Homo sapiens: one gene and its partners. The protein of the gene in region 3 interacts with the protein of the main gene of each other region in a biochemical or structural test. Each region holds a gene or a part of one and is shown on either strand. Other genes may lie near its edges.

What was found. The genes of interacting proteins can lie anywhere in the genome.
Region 1: the proteins of LMNB1 (region 3) and URB2 form a complex in vitro, tested with the Homo sapiens proteins (one study listed by BioGRID).
Region 2: of the proteins of LMNB1 (region 3) and RNF123, one has a biochemical effect on the other in vitro, tested with the Homo sapiens proteins (one study listed by BioGRID).

What each region holds. Positions count from the first base shown.
Region 1 is NC_000001.11:229,643,223-229,650,246, reverse strand, and holds part of URB2 (unhealthy ribosome biogenesis protein 2 homolog), read right to left. Parts: intron 6,715-7,024; coding exon 6,554-6,714; intron 4,389-6,553; coding exon 4,278-4,388; intron 2,738-4,277; coding exon 2,495-2,737; intron 1-2,494. UniProt on the Homo sapiens protein: Essential for hematopietic stem cell development through the regulation of p53/TP53 pathway.
Region 2 is NC_000003.12:49,699,533-49,706,556, reverse strand, and holds part of RNF123 (E3 ubiquitin-protein ligase RNF123), read right to left. Parts: coding exon 6,975-7,024; intron 6,890-6,974; coding exon 6,785-6,889; intron 6,331-6,784; coding exon 6,205-6,330; intron 6,086-6,204; coding exon 5,993-6,085; intron 5,922-5,992; coding exon 5,848-5,921; intron 5,067-5,847; coding exon 4,949-5,066; intron 4,747-4,948; coding exon 4,647-4,746; intron 4,475-4,646; coding exon 4,413-4,474; intron 4,224-4,412; coding exon 4,152-4,223; intron 3,925-4,151; coding exon 3,804-3,924; intron 3,131-3,803; coding exon 3,029-3,130; intron 1,908-3,028; coding exon 1,801-1,907; intron 1,574-1,800; coding exon 1,375-1,573; exon of another isoform or gene 1,371-1,374; intron 1,024-1,370; coding exon 878-1,023; intron 576-877; coding exon 492-575; intron 1-491. UniProt on the Homo sapiens protein: Catalytic subunit of the KPC complex that acts as E3 ubiquitin-protein ligase. Promotes the ubiquitination and proteasome-mediated degradation of CDKN1B which is the cyclin-dependent kinase inhibitor at the G0-G1 transition of the cell cycle.
Region 3 is NC_000005.10:126,815,130-126,822,153, reverse strand, and holds part of LMNB1 (lamin-B1), read right to left. Parts: intron 6,985-7,024; exon of another isoform or gene 6,907-6,984; intron 5,520-6,906; exon of another isoform or gene 3,233-5,519; coding exon 3,012-3,232; intron 1,245-3,011; coding exon 1,019-1,244; intron 1-1,018. UniProt on the Homo sapiens protein: Lamins are intermediate filament proteins that assemble into a filamentous meshwork, and which constitute the major components of the nuclear lamina, a fibrous layer on the nucleoplasmic side of the inner nuclear membrane.

The DNA.
Region 1 (7,024 bases), on a different chromosome or scaffold from region 3:
GCTGTGGCCAGTGGTGACCATACTGGACGATGGAGACACAGCACACACCCACCACTGCTGACCACTGCTGGACAGTGCTGCATCACGTGTGAGAGTGAACAGAGAGTAAGTCAAGTGTCGGGATTATTCTCTTTGGCATAATCTGTCCAACAAAATTTTTGATAGCATAATACCACATTCGTCATGTCAAATTACTGACTTTTTGCAGCATATTCAGAAAGAAGTCGTTTTTGCAAAAGTATTCCAGCGTTTCACCCAGTTCCCCAAGGACCCTCTCTTAATCCTTTGCTATCATACTGATGAAAAGCACACAAATCCTTTTGGAACTATCTGGGTTCACACTCTGGCTCCTTATGATCTTGAACAAATCATCTAGCTTTTCTTTGTATGTGTGCACCTCAGTTTCCTCATCTGCAAAATGAGGATGATAGGTTGTCATGAGGATTGAACAAGCTAAGCCATGTAAAGTGCTTGGAACAGCACTAGCTGCTGATCATTCTGCTGGGTATGCTGGCTGTGCTGACTTCTTACCATACCCTTTAGATGCACCTAAGAGGATTCTGGCTGCGTGTTTACATCAGTGTGGGCCTACCATGCACACTGTTGATGCTGTGATCATCCATCAGATTCCCTACACAACCCCAACAGATGAGAGTGAGCTATGATTAATTCACATCATTCTTTACTGTAATACCATGTCATTATCCTTGTCAATTTTCTCCATTCGTTAAATGATCTAATTCCACTAAATGGTCATTTGCTAATGGTTTTGCAGAAGAATCAAGCTGCTTTCTAGTATTACTTTCATCAACTTCATGAAATCCTGCACCTGTAATTTCAGTTTGTAATTTATGTGCATTGCATTTATATTGTACAGTTACATACAAATCTAACATCAGCAGAGAGATTTTAAAACAAAGATGCTGACAAGATAAATAGGGTCAAAGGCAATTGTTAACAGGGGAAGGCTTTAGAGTTAGAACCAATGTCATGAGTGTTTAGCTTACCAGAGAATATTTTTCTTAAAAACTGCATTGCTGGCAGGTCTCTATCCTTAGGACATCAAAACACTTAAAAGTATCTGAATGTGCATGAATATATGACACACAGCCATGCACTACAAAACAATACTCTGGTCAAAGGCATACTGTATAAACAACAGTGGTCCTATAAGATTATAAGATTGTATTTTTAATGGAACTTTTCTCTGTTTAAATGCACAAATACTTACCATTGTGTTACAACTGTCTACAGGATTCATTAGTCACATGTTGTACAGGTTTGTAGGTTTCTAGCCCAGAAGCAACAGGCTATACCCCATAGCCTAGGTGTGCAGTACTCTGTACCATCTGGGTTTGTGAAAGTATTATACGATCTATGGTGTTTGCACAACAAAAATGCCTAACGACACATTTCTCAGAACAAGTCTCTGTCATTAAGCGATGCATTAACCGTCGTATCTATGAGTTCCTACATACATAGTCAGCCACACATACAGTGGTGGCACCATGAAAAGAACACTGGTCAAAGATAACAAGTCTTGAGTCTAAGGTTTAGACTCAGCTAAGTGACACTGGTCAAATTATTTGGCGGCACTGAGCCTCAGTTTACTCATCAATAAAATGGGATTACTGCCTCCTTCACAGGCTTGCTATAGGGGTGGAACACATCAAATGTTCAATAAATGTTAACTGAACTGTAATTTTTTCTGTGGGACATTTATCCCTAGTTTCAGTTTAACTTAAAAAGGAGCATACTATAAAACTGGAACTCAGGATGCTTCATTCCCTATATCCATTTGAATTATAAGCCCAGCAAGGGATCTATGCGAGTGGCTTATTTAAAGACGTGGTGAGCAAAAACAGAGTAATTTTTAATGAGCTTCCTTAAATAGTATAGATTGTGTATGCCTTATCCTAAAGCTTTGGGACCAGAAGTGTTTCAGATTTCAGATTTCGGAATATTTGCATATATACAATGAGATATCTTGGAGATGGGACCCATCTAAATATAATTTAAAAGTTCATTTATGTTTCACTTTATATAGTTTATACACATAGCTGAAGGTAACTTTATGCAATAATTTTAAATAATTTTTTGCATGAAACAAAGTTTTGACTGTGTTTTGACTGCGACCAGTCACATGAGGTCAGGAGTGGGATTTTCCACTGGTAGCATGATGTCAGCACTCTAAAAGTTTCGAGCTTTGGAGCATTTTGGATTAGAAGTGTTCAACCTGTAGTATACAAACACTATTCATAGCACCAGATCCAATGAAGAAAAACTCGCTCACAAACCCAGTATGAAGGTCGAGCATTTTTATGCTTGAGAAACCACCTGGCTCTGAAATTTACTAGAACAGAAAGTTTGCCTAGCAAATCGTTATTTGTATTATTATCCTGCAACAGTAAAGTTTTGCTGCCACTTTTCTACAGACTTCAAGTACCCTGCTCGCAGAGGAAAAGCTGCCTGCCACTCTCACCCTCCTTCTCACCTTAGGGTGACACTGCAGGATTGAGAAGAGCACGTTGTGCAGCCTCGGGAAGACGCTTCCATACTCCAGCGGCTTCAGATGGTCCAAAGGGACAGTGAGAAGGATGCTGAAGGCCAGGCTGACGTGGTGGGGGTTGCCGATGGCCTCCTCCCCCTGCCGCAGCAGTGCAGCCAGGACATCTAAGACAGGCCCGACCACTGTGAGGGACACAGGCTGCTCCTGAGAAGCTTCTCGGTTTAAGAGCTAAAGGGCAAAATAAAATAAAGGAAAAATGAAAGTAATTCCCCAAGGAAATAACACAAACACTGCAGCTCTGAGTGACTGAGGTAGAAATGTCTGTGCTCCAAAATGAATTGATGTGGTCCGTGGGCCGTTAAATACTATTTGCTAAACTTCTTACAGATCAGCTCTAGTGAAAGATATTCAATTCATGATCTAGAATATAAAGAGAACAGACCCAAGAGGAAGGACAGCTCAAAGTCTTACCTAAGTAACCTGGGACAGCTCACCTGTGACCCTCCTTCTCAGATACACAGCAGCCCTGGTGAGGCCTTTTGGGTCCTGTCTCTCACAATGCTCACTGTTCTGCTGGGTATTCTGGCTGTGCGGACCCCTGCTACACCCTCTGGGTGGACGTAAGTGGATTCTAGCCCAGTGTTCTTATCAGTGAGGGCCTACCACACGCATCATCAACACTGTCCCTGCCCGTCAGCATGGGTCACGTGCCTCTCCTGATGCTCACCACACATGCTCGGTGACGATGACCCCTGCCATCCACCAACACGGATGCTCAGGAAAATGACAAAGCAGCCAAATTGGAAACAAGAGAGAATATTAAGTCTGTTTTTTAGACCCTTTTGCCCCAGGAACATGCTAACCCAGGGCAATTGTCTCAGGTAGCAACAGCTAGAATTAGGGCAGAGTATGATGGTAAAATAGATACTGCTCCTTCGCACCTAAGTGTAAGAACACCCAGGTCAGGGTTTTTAGAGGGCAGGAGGCAGTCCCAATCTGAACCAGACTGTTCTAGTGAAACAAACAGCCTAGCAACAACTGGACACAAATTTTAACATTTGAGTAAGACTGTAACAAAATAAACTCCTATCTGCAACATTACTATCCCATCCTGTAAAGCATTTTATTCTCACTGTATCATAGGCCTTAAACACACACACACATACAACTCCTACAAATAAATGAGTGCATTAAACTAACCACAACATTTTGTGGGGACAAAGAAAGCCCCAGAATTCCTTCTTTTATCATCTGATTAAATAGGCATCTACAAGCTGGCTGCAGTGGCATGCACCTATAATCCTGGTGACTTGGGAGGCTAAGGCAGAAGGATCACTTGAGGCCAGGAGTTTGAGGCTGCAGAACACTACATTTGCAACTGCAAATAGCCACTTCACCTTAGCCTGGACCACACAGTGAGACTCCATTTCTAAAAAAATAATAAAACATAAAATTTTAAAAATTAAGCAGGCCTCCACGATAGCCTCCCTTTATCACTACATCCCTCTTCTTACTGCCTGTCTGATGCTTCCCAGTGCTACTAAATGTCCCTTGTTAGCACTTCCCTTCCACTGCTCCAACCGTTGATACCAATGTGCTCAGGCAGGACACACAAGCTCGGCATCCTGCTCACCACCGCCCTTTGGAAGTAGCCCACACACACGTTCTGCATAAAGCTACAGGGCAGCAGACCCCAAAAGGCTGACTTCTGTCTTTACAGGAAGAGGGAGGGGAGGAGCTAGAGGACACATCTCCAGAGGGTACTCACTGTTAAAGCTGTGACTATCTGGGGACACGCACGCCACAACAGACTTGCTTTCTCTCCACTGAGTGGGCAGTTCAGTAGCAGCCTCAGCAGTGTAACAGCTGACACAACAGCCTGGGGCAAGAGAGAAAAAACTTAGCGGCAGAGATAGCGTGTTCTCCCTTAAGAACTCCGCCTGGGGAAGAAGACTGCTCTCTGGGGCTGTGGCGTTGGAGTGGATTGAGAGCCCTGGTGTCAGGGGAGGTGGACAAGGCCTGCTTGGGGTTAAGTCCTGGGAGGGACACCCTTCACATCAGCATGCAGACAGGAAGGAAGTGAAGAAGATGAGCAGAGCTGGGGCAAAGTCAGGGTCTTTCAGCAGCATTTCACTAAATCAAGCACGTAAATCGGCCAGGACAGTGAATTGCAAAAGGGTCACACACTGTGACCTAATTACAGAGAGCCCGTCTTGTCAAGGCTCTGTCCACGCAGAGGACACTGGCTGTTACTTCACTGAGCAACGATGCACGCTTACAGATAGGAGGGGCTGGAGGAAAATGTGAAAACAATCGGATTAGGTGCTGTGGTCACGGGTGCTACATGCTGACATGAGGGCAATATGACCCAATCGGGTCACATGTTTCAAAATATATGGTGGGAGAGGTCTTAAGCACAGAGTGAGCAGAATTTAACTTTTTTTTTTTTTTCGAGACCGAGTCTCGCTCTGTCACCCAGGCTTGGAGTGCAATGGCATGATCTCTGCTCACTGCAACCTCCACCTCCTGGGCTCAAGCGATTCTCCTGCCTCAGCCTCCCAGGTGGCTGGGATTACAGCCACCCACCACCAGGCCCAGCTAATTTTTGTATTTTTAGCAGGGACGGGGTTTCACTATGTTGGCCAGGTGGTTTCGAACTCCTGACCTCATATAATCCACCCACCTTGGCCTCCCAAAGTGCTGGGATTACAGGCATGAGCCACCGCACCCGGCCAGAATTTAACTTTTATACATATCAGTATTGTGAATATGTAATACTTAGTATTTTACATAATAAGACCACACATTTGTAATTTGAAAAACTTCCCCTTTGAAAAATAAGGTTTTAAACCATGAGATGTGGGCAGAGCCCTACCTTTACGGGGTGCCTATATGAACAAACAGACCCAGTGCCAGGCATTTCACATTGTCAGTGAGTTCCTATTTCAGCCTCACACCGTCCCTTTCTCCCCGAATGCTGTGCAGCCCACCCCACAACCCTAGCCAAAGTCCTGGCTTCTGCCTTTCACTCTCTTCCCTTCCCTGCTCCCTCTGACTAGGCACACCCCAAAGCCCCATCTCCACTCCCACTCTCCTGCCCACCTACAGGCTATCTCCCCACCAGGGCCTGCCCCCCTGGCACCACTTCTCCCTGTCCATCTTCTCACTCTTGCACATCCCCTGCTCCTGGCAGCCCAACACGCTGCCTGCACGGTGCACGCCTCCCTTCCCCTCACCTCTGCTCCCCAATCAAGTCCCCTGCATTCTTCAGTGCACAGCTGGAGTTTCACTTCCTCCGGGAAGTCTCCTGACCAACTGGTCCAAACAGAAATTTAGGTTTGTTTCCTCTCCTGCCCAAATCAGTACCCAATACCAGTGTGCTGTATATGACCAGGAGTCAATAAGCCATTCATGAGGCAGAATATGCCTAGACCAGAGACCTTGGCTGGACTCTCTGCCCCACCAACCATTGGCTCTGTGGCCTGTGGCCTTCTTCCTTGCGTAAGAGATGTCTGACCAGTCCAGTGCCCACAGGCATTCAGAGAAACAAATCCCAGCATGTGAGCTCTGTGCAAAGGCACTCAGCAAATGCAACACCATGCAGGCTGTATTAGCGACTTCTGTCAGAACTGAAGGGGGTAGGCTAACCTAGGTGCTTCTCAAATGCTGGCATGAAGGCAGTATGGCCCAATCAGGCCACATGTTTCAAGAAGTATGGTGTGAGAGGTCTTCAGCAAAGAATGAGCAGAATTTAACTTTTTTATGGATCAGTTTTGTGAATGTGTAACACTTAGTATTTAACGTAATAAGACAACACATTTGTTATTTGAAAAACTTCCCGTTTGAAAACTAAGGCCTCCCTATGCCGCAGCCTGGGCTGTCCCACAGGCCAGGGCTCCCTCTCACAGCCTCCCCCTTTGCCTAGAGTCTCTACCAGTTAGAACTTGTTTAGTTTTAAGGGTGACACCACATCTCAAATCAGTTTTCCCATTTGAGCCGACGTGGTTTCTGAGCCTGCCACACAAGGAGGGAGAAGGCACCCACCTGCACATCTGCTTTCCACATGTTACTGACATCCAGTCCCTGGAGAATACACTGCATCACCAGCCTCAAGTCCTCTGTCGTCCCAACCTCTAACATTTGGGTGAACAAGGCTCCCAAATGAGGCTCAATATCCTGAGTGACCTGAACAGGAATTTCAGGATCTGTGTGGGAAAGAAACCAAAATTGTTAAGATGTGACAGGTGAAATAAACTACCAAGTAGCCATAGGATGAAACTGCGCACAGCTGTGGCCGCCATCAAAAATCACCAAGTTAGGGGCATGGTGATATAAGCACTGGTGGAAAAAGCAGGTACACGTAGTTACTGTGATGCCATGCTCTCACACGCACAGCTACGCCTGTGCATTGTGTGTACACACACAAACACAGAAGACGACAGCCATGCTTAGGAGGTAAACCTGAACCACAGAAGACAGTGATTATTGCTTTGTGCGGTTGACCCTTGAACAATG
Region 2 (7,024 bases), on a different chromosome or scaffold from region 3:
GAGCCGCTGGCCAGAGCACCCAGGGACCTGATGCCAGAACCGCTGCTCCCCCAGCTGCCAGACCCAGGGATCTGCTGACAGGTCGGGGTGGGTGGGGGCTGTCAGGGAAGCTCAGCCTGGACACACTGGGCCCCACCTTCCTGGGCTAGGGCAGCTACAGCAGAGGGCTCCGGAGGGTGCAGTGGAGCCAGGCCCTGCTTCCTGCTGACTCTGCAAGTGGCCGAGGAAGCACTCAGGGTCAATGAATAATTGATGAGGAGAGTGGGTGTGCTTCAGCACTTATTGGGCCCAGGGGGTGGGGGGCACCTAGGCACAGGCCACACTGGTGATGGGTGCCAGGCCTTGCTGCCAGCCCCACTCTCACTGGCGTGCTATGGCCAGGGCTAGAGTGGGGATGAGAACTGCCAGGGCAGCCCCCAGAACCAGACTTCATCTGTGGTTACCTGTACGAGTAAGCAAGCTGCCCCTCACCAAGACTATGTGGGCCTTACCCTCTTGGGGCACCGGCGGAGCTTGTCCTCTGTGTCCCTCAGAGCCATAGCGTATTCATTGACATCATCGGAGACACCCACCATCTACACAGCATGGGACCACATGTCCAGAGTGCCCCTTGGGCACTTCATCCAGGCTTCTTCAGACCCAGTCTGGACCCCAGCCCTGCCAAGGTCCCAACCTTAGGCCCAGGGCGGTCCCATTCCCACAACAGTCAGCAGGTCAGACTGAGGCAGCAGGAGCAGAAACCAGCCTCGCTGAGGCATGTGCTCCCATGCACGGTCTTGAACAGGCAGCCCTGCGGGCCCATGTGCACACAGGAATACACACACAACCAAACACGCACAACACCCGCCACCCAATGCGGGGTCCAAGAGTGCACGACCTTGCCCAGCTGCTGGTGTACGCTGAGGTTGTACATCATGACCGCCCCATCCAGGACTTCCAGCAGCGAGTTCTCGGTGAGGGGCTGCTCAGGCTCCTCGGGGGGCCGCCCCAGCAGCAAGCCCTCATTCCAGTGGCTGCCTTCAACTGGGGAGTTGGGGAGGGAAGGGTCAAGGGTAGGGCCATCCCGGCTCTCCTGAGCCTGCCTCACAGCAGGAGAGGAAATCATCTCTCCCATTCCTGTGCCCAAGGAGGGACCCGCGGGGAGCCCATGGGGGCATGGGGGTAGGGGTGGAGTGCAGGGCAAGGCCTGCGGTGCCAGGACCTATTTCTGCGGCATTGATCTCCTGCCCTCGGAGTGTGCTTCCTGCACTCCTGGGATGCTGCCAGGCCACAGGGCTGGGAGGGCATGGGGTGTATTTTGGCTTTGCCCGGATCGGGGACTGTACACTGTGGAAGGGTCCTTCGGGGACCTGCCTGACCCCACCAAGCACCTACTGTCCTCACGGGTCCTCTGCTCCACGCTCAGCGTGCGGACCTTCACTTTCTCCGAGGTGCTCAGAGGCCGCCGTGGGGTCATGAGGCTCACAGCCGCTGTGCTGAGGAAGCGGTTGGCTCGGCCCAAAGTTGGAGAACTGAGCCAGCCGGGCCGGGGCAGGGGCAGTGGCCCCCCAACAGCCAGGGCCTGCATGGGGCGCTGCAGTGAAGAAAGGCGGCCAGGACCAGGGCTGGCTCAGGGTTCCCTTGGCCCACGGGGCTGCAGAATTGTGAGGGAGGGTCCATGCCTCCACCCACAGCAAGGCACCAGCCCAGTGAGAAACCCTTTGCCTGCATGGAGCGGGAAGTGGCCCTGGATGAGACCCCTGCCCATAAGATACAGGATAAGCCCAACACAAATCCCACCGCCTGCCCCCACTGCGGCACCTGGGCCATAGCTGGGGCTGGCTCCTCATCCTCATCTAGGTCATCCATGGCGGTTGACTGGAGCTCCAGTGGGTCGATCACAATGTTGGCTTTGGAAGCAAGGTCATCTGGGAGGAAGAGCAGGAGGGTTCTCAGGCCAGTGGTGGCGCAAGGGGCCACAGTGGAAGTGCCCAGGACGGTGAGAGAGCCCAGCACACTGGGCAGGAGGCCTTGCAGAGCCCGGTTTAGCACCGTATCTGCCCCTCGCCCCTCCGCCTCCTCCACCCAGCCTTCACTCTGCATCTCAAGGGCCCCGTCTAGCTGCCACTCAGTAACAGGAGGCCTTCCCCATCACACCCTTCTTTTTCATTTATTTTCAAATTGACTTTCTTTATTCTACATAGATGTAAGCCCATCATGCCCTTCCTGCTGGTCCCTGGCTTTGTTTCCCAGGACTTCCTGCTCTCCAGGGCCTCCCCCACTCTCTGACTACTCCATAAACAAAAGGAGATGCCAGGGCTGCTTCATTCTGGGCACTCCCAGTGGGAGCCAAGCCTCATCCCAGGCTCATCCCCACCACCGTGCTGACAACTGACCCCGCCTTCGCTGCCCCCCGCCCAGGCCTTGCTCCCCGCTAAACGCGCTGTGTCCAAACAGAATTTCTCATCTCCACCACCTCCTGCAGCCCCTCTCCCTGATGGCACCCCATCCACACAACCTCTGGCAGGAAGCCTGGGGTCATCCTGACTCCTCTCCTCCACCTGTGCCCTCCCCTACCTACCTGGGCAGGCCCTTATCTCCTGTGTGGGGACACCTGGGCTCCCTGTCTCTCAGCCCCTGCACTCCGGCGTATACACTGCGGCAGCCAGAGAGAGGTTCTGACAGCACAGACCCACCCTTGTGCCCGGCTCAGGGCCTTGCTCTCGCTGTGCCCTCAGCCCTGCACCGGGGCAGCTTGTGCTCATCCCTGAAGGCAGCTCCGGCAGCACCTGCACGCCCCATCCACACCTCACCAAGATCCCTGGTCCCCTGCCAGGCACGCCCGACCCCTATGGCGTGGGTGCTGGCGGGAAAGAGAAGCTGCCCAGATGTAGGGCAGGCAGATCAGTGTCTCCCTGCCTGAGTGGGTGGAAAGACTTGGGCACCCTCTGGTGGCCATAGGATGGCTCAGCATCCACAGCAGAGCAGGCTCAGGGACAGTCCCCCACCTGGCCCCAGAACTGCTCCCGGCCCACAGGCCTGTACACACCTTTGAGGGTCTTCCGCAGGTGCGAGAGGAGGCCCCCCAGGCGCTGCAGGTCAAAGTAGTCCACCTTGCCATTATAGAAGACCTGGGGCGGGATGTAGGCCTCTGCGAGGAATTGAGGAGGCTAGGCCAGTGGTCACGGCCCAGTAGGAAGACCCTCCCCACAGCCCTCCCCTCCAATCTGGCCTAGCACAGCCTGGGAATTCTGGCTTTGGCCACTCACCCATCCAGGCAGACAGAGAAACTGTCTCCTGGACCAAGAAACAGACCTCCCCTACCTCTTCTCCACCCCTGCCATTTCAGGTCAGAGCCAGCAGCTGCATAACTTGGGGTGATGGGGGTACTCATGGCAGCCGTTCACTCAGGAGAAGCAGAGAGGCCCAGCCCCAGTCCTGTGGGATATCCCCCAATCCAGGGCAGGTAAGGCTCCCACTGACCCTTGGGGACTCAAACACAGGGCCCCCCAGCACCCACCCAAGGCAGCCCTATAAAGGACGCACAGAGAAATGGGGGGGCAAGGACGGAAGAAAAGAGCCCACAATGGTAGGAGCCCGTGGGACAATCAGAGCAAACACAGGATCGGCAGGCCTGCGGTGCAGGGCTCCTGCTGCCCCAGTGGAGAAGCCGCCTGTGGCTGGGTAGGACTCAACCAGGCAGGATGCCGGGGACAACTCCCCACAGCCCACAGCCTCAGCTCAGCACTCTGCACTAACATTAGGGGCTGCCCTACGCCTGGCTCTGTCCAGCCTCACTGACCTGGGACCCCGGTGCCACTCACCCTCACTGAAGGAAGCATGAGGATTGGAAGCCTTGTATTCATCCCAATAGTAGCGCAGGGCAGAGATCAGCCGGTGTAAGAAGCAGACCATGTACTCAGGGGGGCAGAGCATGGGCATGTTCTGTGGACACCAGGCATGAAACATGCATTGGTGCCAGTCCAGTGCCTTGCCCATTCCTCATCCAAGGCCCTGCCTGAGGGTCGAGGGTTAAGCAGGGAGGGAAAAGCAGCAGAGAAAAGCTTGGGGCTAGGCAGGGATGAGGCAGTCCGAGAAGTGCCAGGTGCTGAGGGCATGGCATGTGTAGTGCAGCCGGGGATCCACAGTGGGCTGGCCTGGAGGACACCTACCCCCCGGCCACTGGCGTTCTCCTGCAGAAACTTGCGAAACTTGGTCAGGAAGATATACCTAGAAGCTTCACCCTTTGAGAGAGGGAAAAGTGAGGCTGTGCTGAGCTGAGAATGCAGGCCCAGACTGGGCTGGCTCAGTGCTGCACCTTCCCCCAGCCCCTGCCATGGGAACCAAACCCAGTTCCCACCCTCTGGGTCTTAAGGCCCAGTGCAGCATCCCTCCCCACAGGGCCCCACCCAGGGCTCCTGGGAGTCACTCACCCCATTGTCATCTTTATTGTCCAGCAGCAGCTTCAGGATCTGGACCTGTAGTTCTTCCACCACTGGAGGTCAGGTGAGGAACATGGCCCTCAGGCTCCAGGAGATGGGGGGCAGGTTTGGGCCAGGGCTCCACCACCAGGGTTCCCCAAGTCCCACCTAGACATGGGCACCTCCAAGCACCCTCATGTGCACACACACACCTCCCACCCTACCCCGTGCCCAAGGCGGGCTGACCTTCGATGCGCTTCCTGAGCCGCTGACAGCCCCGTTCGTAGGCTCGCCGCCGCAGCCGCTCCTCTGCGGTCTCCTCCTTCATCTCCGTGCTCTCTTTGCCCTAGGCAGGGGTAGCAGGTGGAATACAGCAGGGTCACCTGGGACCTAGCCAGGCCTCCTTCACTCAGAACACCCACACTCCATCTCCAGGGCTTCAGGGACCAGGGCCAGTGAAAAGGCCTCATGCTAGATGCCCAGTGGCCAGATGCCCAGGCCAGGGGCCTTGCCATGACCTCTGCCCATCCCACTTGGGGTGCACTCACCTCCCTACTGGAGCAGTGGGGCCACCAGGTGGTGGGAATGAGCTCCTGCAGGCCGGCCTCCTCCACACGCAGGGGGCTCTTGATGTAAAAGAAGACGACGGAGCGGAGCACGTCGAAGCTGGCGGGTGTCAAGGCAGGGCTCTGCTTGCCAAAGGGCACTCTGCACACCCTCAAGAGTCCTTCCCCAGGAGCCCATCCCTGGATGTGCCTACCACAGCTCTCCCACCACCACAGGGGCATGTTGCTGCTATGTGTCTGACCCCCAGGGCATGCTCCCTGACAAAAAGCTGTGGTGGTTAAGCCCACCAGCTCCAGTACCCAGCAGGTGCACGATAAGGGCTTGTCACAGGAACAGATGACTGTGGGACAAGCTGGAGAGAGGGACTGGTGGCCTTTTCTCAGGCCCCAACTCTGACCTCTGTGTCTCCCAGCTTTGTGTCTGCCTCCTGGAGGCTGGAAGACCCCAGACCAAGAAAACGGCTACAAGCTGAGGCTTCCCAGCCAGGGGCTCAAAGCTATGCTCTCACTCACTCATGCAGTTCCCAACAATTCTGGGAAGCAGGAAGAGCTGCCTCCTTAAAGATCTTGCAGGAATCCCCACTGTGGAACATGAACAAAAGTGCTGGGCTGTGGCCGAAGAGGGCAGGCCCTGTGGCCCCTCCCACACCTCTGCGTAGCCCGAGTCTGCAGTCATTCAGAACCCCCTGGCTAGGCTGGCTGGCCAGGCTCAGTCCTTTGCTCTCTCGTCCTTGCTCTGTAGAGAAAATGCCACGTTGGGCAGCTCTGGTCCTCCTGATGCTCCCAGGGGACCCCTGGCCTGATGACACTCCCCTTCCTGGCCTCTGCTGAGTCCAGAGGGCACCCCATGTCTGGCCTGCCAGGCAGCAAGGAAAGGATACAGGACATTGCTAAGCAGAAACTTGCGGGACTTCTCATGCCTCAGGATGGCGATAGTGAGCCGCAGGTAATGGATCTGTGGAGAGGGGGCGTTCAGAGTGGACAGGCGAGTCCCAGGGGGCTCAGGGCAGGGGTAGGGGCTCCCACCTGTAGGCCCAGGTCTGGGACAATGGGTGAGAATCGGTACAGCCGAAGCAGAGACATCATCAACTGCTTGAGGCAATCTTGTACCTCGTAGTCCTGGGGGAAGAGATGCCAAGGCAGCCATGACTGGGGCCTTTTCCAAGATTCTCCCCGTATCTTCCCGACCCCAGTGAAGACTGACAGCCAGGCCTGAGGCCTGAGGTCAGGAGCCTCACCTCCATGAAGAGCCACAAGAGGTCCAGGACCTGGTGCACCACGGACTGTGCCTGTGTGGGTGTGCCCTTCTCCACGATGCCCAGCAAGAAGCTCATGAGCACAGCCTCCACCAGATACACCTTGCGCTGCACCAAGGCCAGGCACTGGTGAGGTGGTGGCCTTCCACTCTGGTCAAGGCACCCCTGCCCTGGCACATGGCCAAGGCACAAGCCTCAGGCACAGAGCCTTGAGCCACTCGAGCAACACCAAACATAGATGACCCCTTCCGGGGTCTGACTGAGGGACAAGAAGGCCATTGCCCCACGGCTCCTCTAAGGCTTGGCACACGCAGTTTCCTTGGCCTGGGATGTTATTATCCTTCAGTCTTCTTTCCAGGACATCCCCTGATGCCCTTGGTTGGCAATGTCCCTGTTTCCCTAGGGGACTGACTGAGGTCTGAGGGCCCTGGTCACATGGGGCCCTCGCCAGGTGATGCTGTGGGACCTCAGCACTGCAGCCCTCAGTGAGGGCACATCTACCACGGGCGTGTCTAGCATGGCCTGTCTCCTCCCCTCCCATGCCCCTCCCAATGCCGCTCACCAGAAGCGGTGCAAAGTGATGGAAGATGTGGGCCAGTGTGAGGAGGACGGTGGGCTGGCCCCGCAACCGCCACTTGGAGCTCTCCTTGTCCAACAGCCGCCCCTCCTGTGTGGAGGGGGAGGAGGGAGAAGTGTGAGGGGCAGGAGGCTGTGGAAGCCCCCCACCCCGCCTGGCCCAGACCCCAGCTCACCACAGGGTCCAGCTCCACACTCAGCACTGCCCGGAAGCAGCCCAGCAACC
Region 3 (7,024 bases):
CGTGCTTGCGTGCACCTGTAATCCCAGCTACTCAGGAGGCTGAGGCAGGAGAATCTCTTGAACCCAAGAGGTGGAGGAGCCAAGATCATGCCACTGCACTCCGACCTGGGCAACAGAGCAAGACTCAAAAAAAAAAAAAAGGCTACAAAGAGACCTTAGAGCCTATTCTCTTTAGCATTAAAACTGTTGGTGCTCATTAGTGCTCCTTCACTCATCCAAATTACATATTCATCCACATGCAAGATAGTTTTAATAACTGTGGTGAGAAAAGACTAATTTTCAAAACTACTTTTAGCAGGCCCTGAACATATGTTTCAAGATGTGACATCCATCCCACTGCCGCCTGCACGCTCCCAGACCATGCCTTCCTCTAGTATCATCTCACAACCCATCATGGCCTCCAGCTCCTTGATGCAGAGCTAGGGAAGGCCCACACTACAGAGCTCCCGAAAGCCCCAGCCCTAAATTTCAGAAATCTCTGCTATGAATACTTCATGTTTACTTTTAAACATATTTCAAAATAAGGCTTCATGCTATTTTTCATGTAAAGTATTAGCATTTGTTCATTCATTTATTTGCAGGGAAAAATATTCCCTTAATATCTGAGTCCAGGCTCTTATCTCCTTCTTTCAGTAAGCTTTTTATTAAGTTAATGACCGAAAGAATATCCACCATTTTCATCCAATTGCTCCAACTTCTTCACAAATTTGGCTAGGGCAGAGAATAATAATAACTCATCCTCAGAACCACTGTGATAAAAGGAACATGCTTTTCAAAAAAGCCCTGGCCCTCTAAAGAAGGGTTAATGAAGCAAATCTTTAAACTACTAAGGGTACCTAACTCTTCCTCCTCCTATTTTAATTTTTATTTTATTTTATGAATTTAAGTAAAAAGGACATAAACCCTTATTCCATGAAGACGTAATGAATCCAAACAAAAACTAAGGAGCTATGACAATTGCAAGAGAATCTAGCAATCCACAAAGCCTTGCTAGAAAAAAAAGGGTCTATTTTATTACCTGTTCAGAAGTGTTCTTCAAGCGGATAAATTTCCCATCAACATCAATTTCTTCGATGCAAACATTTCCAGTGGCTGAGGCGGAATGAGAGATGCTAACACTACTACTCGCCTCTGATTCTTCCACATCAACCCTCTTCCGCTTTCCTCTAGTTGTACGTACACTACGACTTGAGGATGCTCGGGATACTGTCACACGGGAAGAAGGGCTTGGAGACAGCTTCAACCTATATGGGAAAAATAAAACAATTCATTTTTAAAACACATATGCCCTTCTCGCCTTAAAAAAAAAAAAAACAAAAAAACAAGGGCTGGGCACAGAGGCTCATGTCTGTAACCCAACAGCACTTTGGGAGGCCAAGGCAGGTGGATTGCTTGAGGTCAGGAGTTCAAGATCAGCCTGACCAACATGGTGAAACCCCGTCTCTACTAAAAATACAAAAATTAGCCAGGCGTGGTGGTGGGCGCCTGTAATACTAGCTACTCAGGAGGCTGAGGCAGGAGAATGGCTTGAACCCGGGAGGCAGAGGCTGCAGTGAGCTGAGATCACACCACTGCACTCTAGCCTGGGTGACAGAGTGAAAACCTGTCTCAAAATAATAATAATAAGAAGAAGAATATCCCACCCATGCATTTCTAAAGCAAAATATTACTTACAATCTGTTAGCCAAAGCCAAAGTTTACCTTAACTAATGTAAACTTCTTCATAAGGTGCCCATCGTCAATTTTCTTTTTTAAAAAATAACAATCTGAATGTTTTCTCTAGGGATGGAAGTAATATAACCATAATGCAAGAAGTCTGGTAAATGGGTAGAAAGTCATCTGATCTACCACCACCCACCACAGCCACTGTTATAGTTGGTGTACTTTTTTCTCTTTTCGTACCTGTACTTTCTTATGATCACAACGGATATAATATTAAAATTATCTGGCTTTTTATCCTAAATCAGCCACTTTCCTTTTGGAACTTTTTTTTTCTTTTTCTTTTTTTTGTGAGACAGAGTTTCACTCTTGTCACCCAGGCTGGAGTGCAATGGCACAATCTTGGCTCACTGCAAACTCCACCTCCCAGGTTCAAGCAATTCTGTCTCAGCCTCCCAAGTAGCTGGGATTACAGGTGCCTGCCACCATGCCCAGCTAATTTTTGTATTTTCATTAGAGACGGAGTTTCACCATGTTGACCAGGCTGGTCTTGAACTCCTGACCTCATGTGATCCGCCTGCCTTGGCCTCCCAAAGTGCCGGGATTACAGGCATGAGGCAATGCACCTGGCCCTTTTGGAACTCTTTTCTGAGAACAGGTGTCAAAAATATTTATACATTGACCAGATTTAAAATATATATAAAGCCAGCCGGGCGTGGTGGCTCACACCTGTAATCCTAGCACTTTGGGAGGCTGAGGCGGGTGGGTCACTTGCAGTCAGGAGTTTGAGACCAGCCTGGCCAACATGGTGAAACCTCTTCTCTACTAAAAACAAAATTAGCCGGGTGTGGTGACACACGCCTGTAATCCCAGTTACTCAGGAGGCTGAGGTAGGCAAATCGCTTGAAACCAGGAGGTGAAGGTTGCAGTGAGCCGAGAATCACACCACTGCACTCTAGCCTGGGCAACAGGCTGAGACTCTGTCTCAAAAATAAATAAATAAATAAATAAATAAATAAATAAATAAATAAATAATATGTAAAGTCTCTTTCAGCCAGTTTGGCATTTTACAATATATTAAATCACCAAAACACTTAAAATCTCAAAGGAACTAATCCATCCTGATGCAGTTCAGCATTTAAAGTAATAATAATAAATAAACTAAGAGTACTTGAGCAACATTTTCTGCGATGAGGTAGAAATATGATCTATTACTACTTCTATACCTAGGTGTTCAAAGAAATGACCAAGAAAATAAAGTTCTTTTTAAAATGCTATTTATTTTTATTTCAATAAAAAGGGTGAGAGGCAAAAAGTGGACCATAAGGTAGGGTGACCCTTAAGTTCCTTACCTCTCTTCTTCGCCTTCTAAGAGTTTCCTGTAAGCACTGATTTCCATGTCCAGGGCTAACTTTACATCAAGAAGCTGTTCATAGTCATTCAGCTGTTGCTGCATTTGATCCCTTATTTCCGCCATCTCTCTCTCTTTGTCTGTCAGCATGCGACGAGAGTTGTCTTTTTCTTTAGCAAGCAAGTCCTCTAATTCTTGAATCCTTTCCAAACATGCTCTAGACTTAAGATGCAAGGAAACATATTTACTTTCTAGGAACATTCCAACATTAGCACCAGGCAGCTATTTTAAATCATTTCCTAGACTGGAAAACAGTACAACCCTATGGAATCTCTAACTCACTAGAATTCAAGAGATTTTAAGAAATTAAAACCCAAAATTCCTCAAATACAAAACACAGACCTCAGGATAGTTTTGGCTGATAAAAGAATAAAAGACATATTCCACAAATGTAAGTTCTGTAAATATACATATAATTTTTCTGTACTTAGCCAAAAAAATGTTAAGATGTGGTTTTGGTAAAAGTCAAGTCTGGCTCCCTTACAAAGCCTTTACTTCCAAAAGTATAAATTAAATAAAGAACTTAAAAAGATAAGAACACTGGGTGGGTGTGGTGGCTTACGCCTGTAATCCCAACACTTTGGGAGGCCGGGGCAGGTGGATCACCTGAGGTCAGGAGTTTGAGACCAGCCTGACTAACATGGCGAAACCCCGTCTCTACTAAAAATACAAAAAAAATTAGCAGGTTGTAGTGGTGGGCGCCTGTAATCCCAGCTACTTGGGAGGCTGAGGCAGGACAATCGCTTGAACCCCGGAGGCAGAGGTTGCAGTGAGCCAAGATCACGCCATTGCACTCCAACCTGGGCAACAGAGCGAGACTCTGTCTCAAAAAAAAAAAAAAAAAGATATAAACACTGACTGACAAAATAAACCTAAGAGTGGGTAAAAGTACGTTTTAGCAGACTGCTGAGGAATATTCAGAAACCAAGGCAAAGGGACTCTGGTTACTATGTGGAAGGCACTACCTAGTGTCCCTTTAGGATTGCTGGGCTATCTCATGTTCAGTTAGCACACAAAGGACACACAATATAGGGTGATTTGTAAAGTATTACTGTGAATATAGAAGCTGTATATTTGGCATAAAAAAATTAAAAATCACACATCCTACACCAGAAAGTTCATCTTAGAAACCTTGTGGCTCGCTGGGTAATTATTCTTCTGTGTTTCTCCATGACAGAATTCATCTCAGTAGCCTCAGAAAGTGACAACTCAAAAAGACTGATGGATAGCTTAGGCCCTCAGAATCACAAGTACCTGCAACAGAGCAGGAGAGAAAGGGCATCTAATGTGCAAAAACTAAATCTAGAAGGCTAGAGATAAAAAGGAGCTACCAAATACATAAAAACTGTACTCTTGCTGGTAAATTTACTTTTCACAGCAGTACAGGTTCAAAATTTTGAAACTGCTTTAACATATACTGGGGCTGAACAGATAAGTAAATGGATGATAAAAACCAGGTTTCTCACTCTGAGAGAGAAAAGATACAGGTATGTCAGAAAGGAAGCCAAAATTGAATGCTGTCCTACTAGATTCAAGTCAGAGACATCTGTATGAATTCATGTTTATCTTAACACAAATGATTAGACAGAAAAAGTTATAAATATGTGCATACACATGGGTTAGCATACATAAAATGTTACCCACTTTTATCGGTGAGAGGGCCAAGAAGCAGTGATACCCAGTACCAGTGAGCACACTCAGTGCCCAGATCTTAATTTCTATATACCATTCTCCAATAACAAGAACCAGGGCTCCTTGGAGACTGGATAATTCTAGGACTGGGGCAGGGAAAATGCAAGATGAGCCTAGAGCATGTTATAGTACCAGAAAGCAACAAAGTGCTCAAAAAACAATGGGACATAGTGGCCAAGCTGACAGAACTCCCAGTGGCCAAATATGAAACAATTTAAGCCAAAAAAGTAAATACTGCAGTATTAGCTTACAACCCAAAGTATAAAGTAAATGCCCATGGTCCATACGGACACAAACAAACAAACAAACAAACCAAACAAACGGGGAATGGATAAATCGTTACAGAAGAATGCCATTTAATAAATGTAGATTTCCCTCCAGAATGTGGCGCTTAAGTCCTGCCCTGTCCTTCACCCTTGAGGGTAGGCTGGACTTAGTGAGCTGTTTTCCATGAACAGTGTATGGGAACGGAAAAATAGTAGCGCTGTTGACAGTGGAGAAACCTGACAAACACTATCTTAAACCAAACACCACCAGTGATGTCATGTGGTTATCACATACGTGCAATCCCTGATACGATGTGACAAAACGGGCACTTAAAACCCAAAACCCCAGTCTAATCACGTGAAAAGCACCGGACAAATCCAAATTGGGGGACAGTCTACAGGATACCTGGACAATCTTACTCAAGACTCAAGCTCATAAAAAACAAGGAAAGCCCAAGAAACTGTCACAGACCAGGGGAGGCATGTGGCACCTGGAACAGAAAGAAGATAACAGAAGAACTGGTGAAATCCAAATAGTCTGGAGACGAGTTCACAGTAATATACCAATGTCAGTTTCTTAGTTTTGACAAATATACTATGGTAACATAAGATGCTAACAACAGGGGAAAATGGGTGAGAGGAAAACAAGAACTGTCTATAGTACTTTGCCAACTTTTCTGTAAATCTAAAATTATGCCAAAATAACAAGGTTATTTAAAAAATAATCAAGAGTCACTGTAAACCTATTTGGGGGCAGAGGGGGTGCCTGGTTCACACGCACACACAAAAATATATTTTTAAAGAAAAAAAATTGACCAATCAATTAATTAAATTCCAGAGTAGTATATGACTTGACATGCTATTTAGACAGGCACTCCTCTTAAGATGGATATTACAAAGGTAGTCCCTGAACCTCAGAGAACTTGCATTTAACTGCGTTTGCAAAAATCATGCTATAAATGGAGAAATCCATTTCCCCGCTACCATGTTCCTTGTATTTTCTTTTTCTCCAAAAGAAAAAAAAAAAGTCATGTAAGTTCAAAATGCCTCCCTTTATTTCATATATCAGAGGTAGAAGATATATTTGAATGGGCAAAAAGGTAGAATCTAAAGGAGAGTTGATGAGAGATATAAACTACCCAAGATTCACAGATAACCTGAGCCGAGATTTATAAACCCAATGATGTCTCTGTTTGACTGCCTTTGATGTTGTAGAGCTCTTTAAGAGGGAAAAATCAAAATCTAGGTATAAAAATTTTAAAGTTACTCTGAATCATTCTGTATTTTAAATAGAAATATTTAAATTCTATTTTCAGTAGCTGCACTTACACCTGTGTAGTGAAATATAAGGAACACAGTATGAGAAGTTAGACCTAGATTCTCCTTTCTAATTCTGCCATTGAAACTACCTATGAGGCTATAAGCAAGCTGTAACTAATCTCACTAAACCAGTTTCCACATAAGGAAAATGAAGAGCTCTAACTATCTAGATGATCTCTCAGATCTTGCCACTAACCCTAAATTTTATGACTTCTGATGATCTTGGGGTTTTTAAATATTTTATAGTATGTAATGTAATTGTACTGGTTTATTAAGGTCTAGCTGCAACCAAAGTCTCCAGAATCTGGGTGTTAGAAAAACAAAAGTTAGAGGTGTTTTTAAGTACCATACTGTACTCTTCTCTAAGGCAAGCAGACTCTAACCAACCAATTCATTTGGTCCCAAGTCAAAAATCTAGAGATGCTATAAGCAATGTAAAATTTCTAATTCCAAAACATAACACTGCTACCATCTATATATTATTTAAATATATCTTGTAAAACCAGTATTTTAAAGCCATGTCAATTTTAAGTAAAATTTAAGAAGTACTTCACTAACCTGAGTTATTTAACCAAAAGGAAATTCTTATGGCCTAATAGGCAGCATGATGAAACTGATATGACTCAGCAACAAACACTATTAAGACAAACAATAGGAAAATATTCAAAAAGATAAC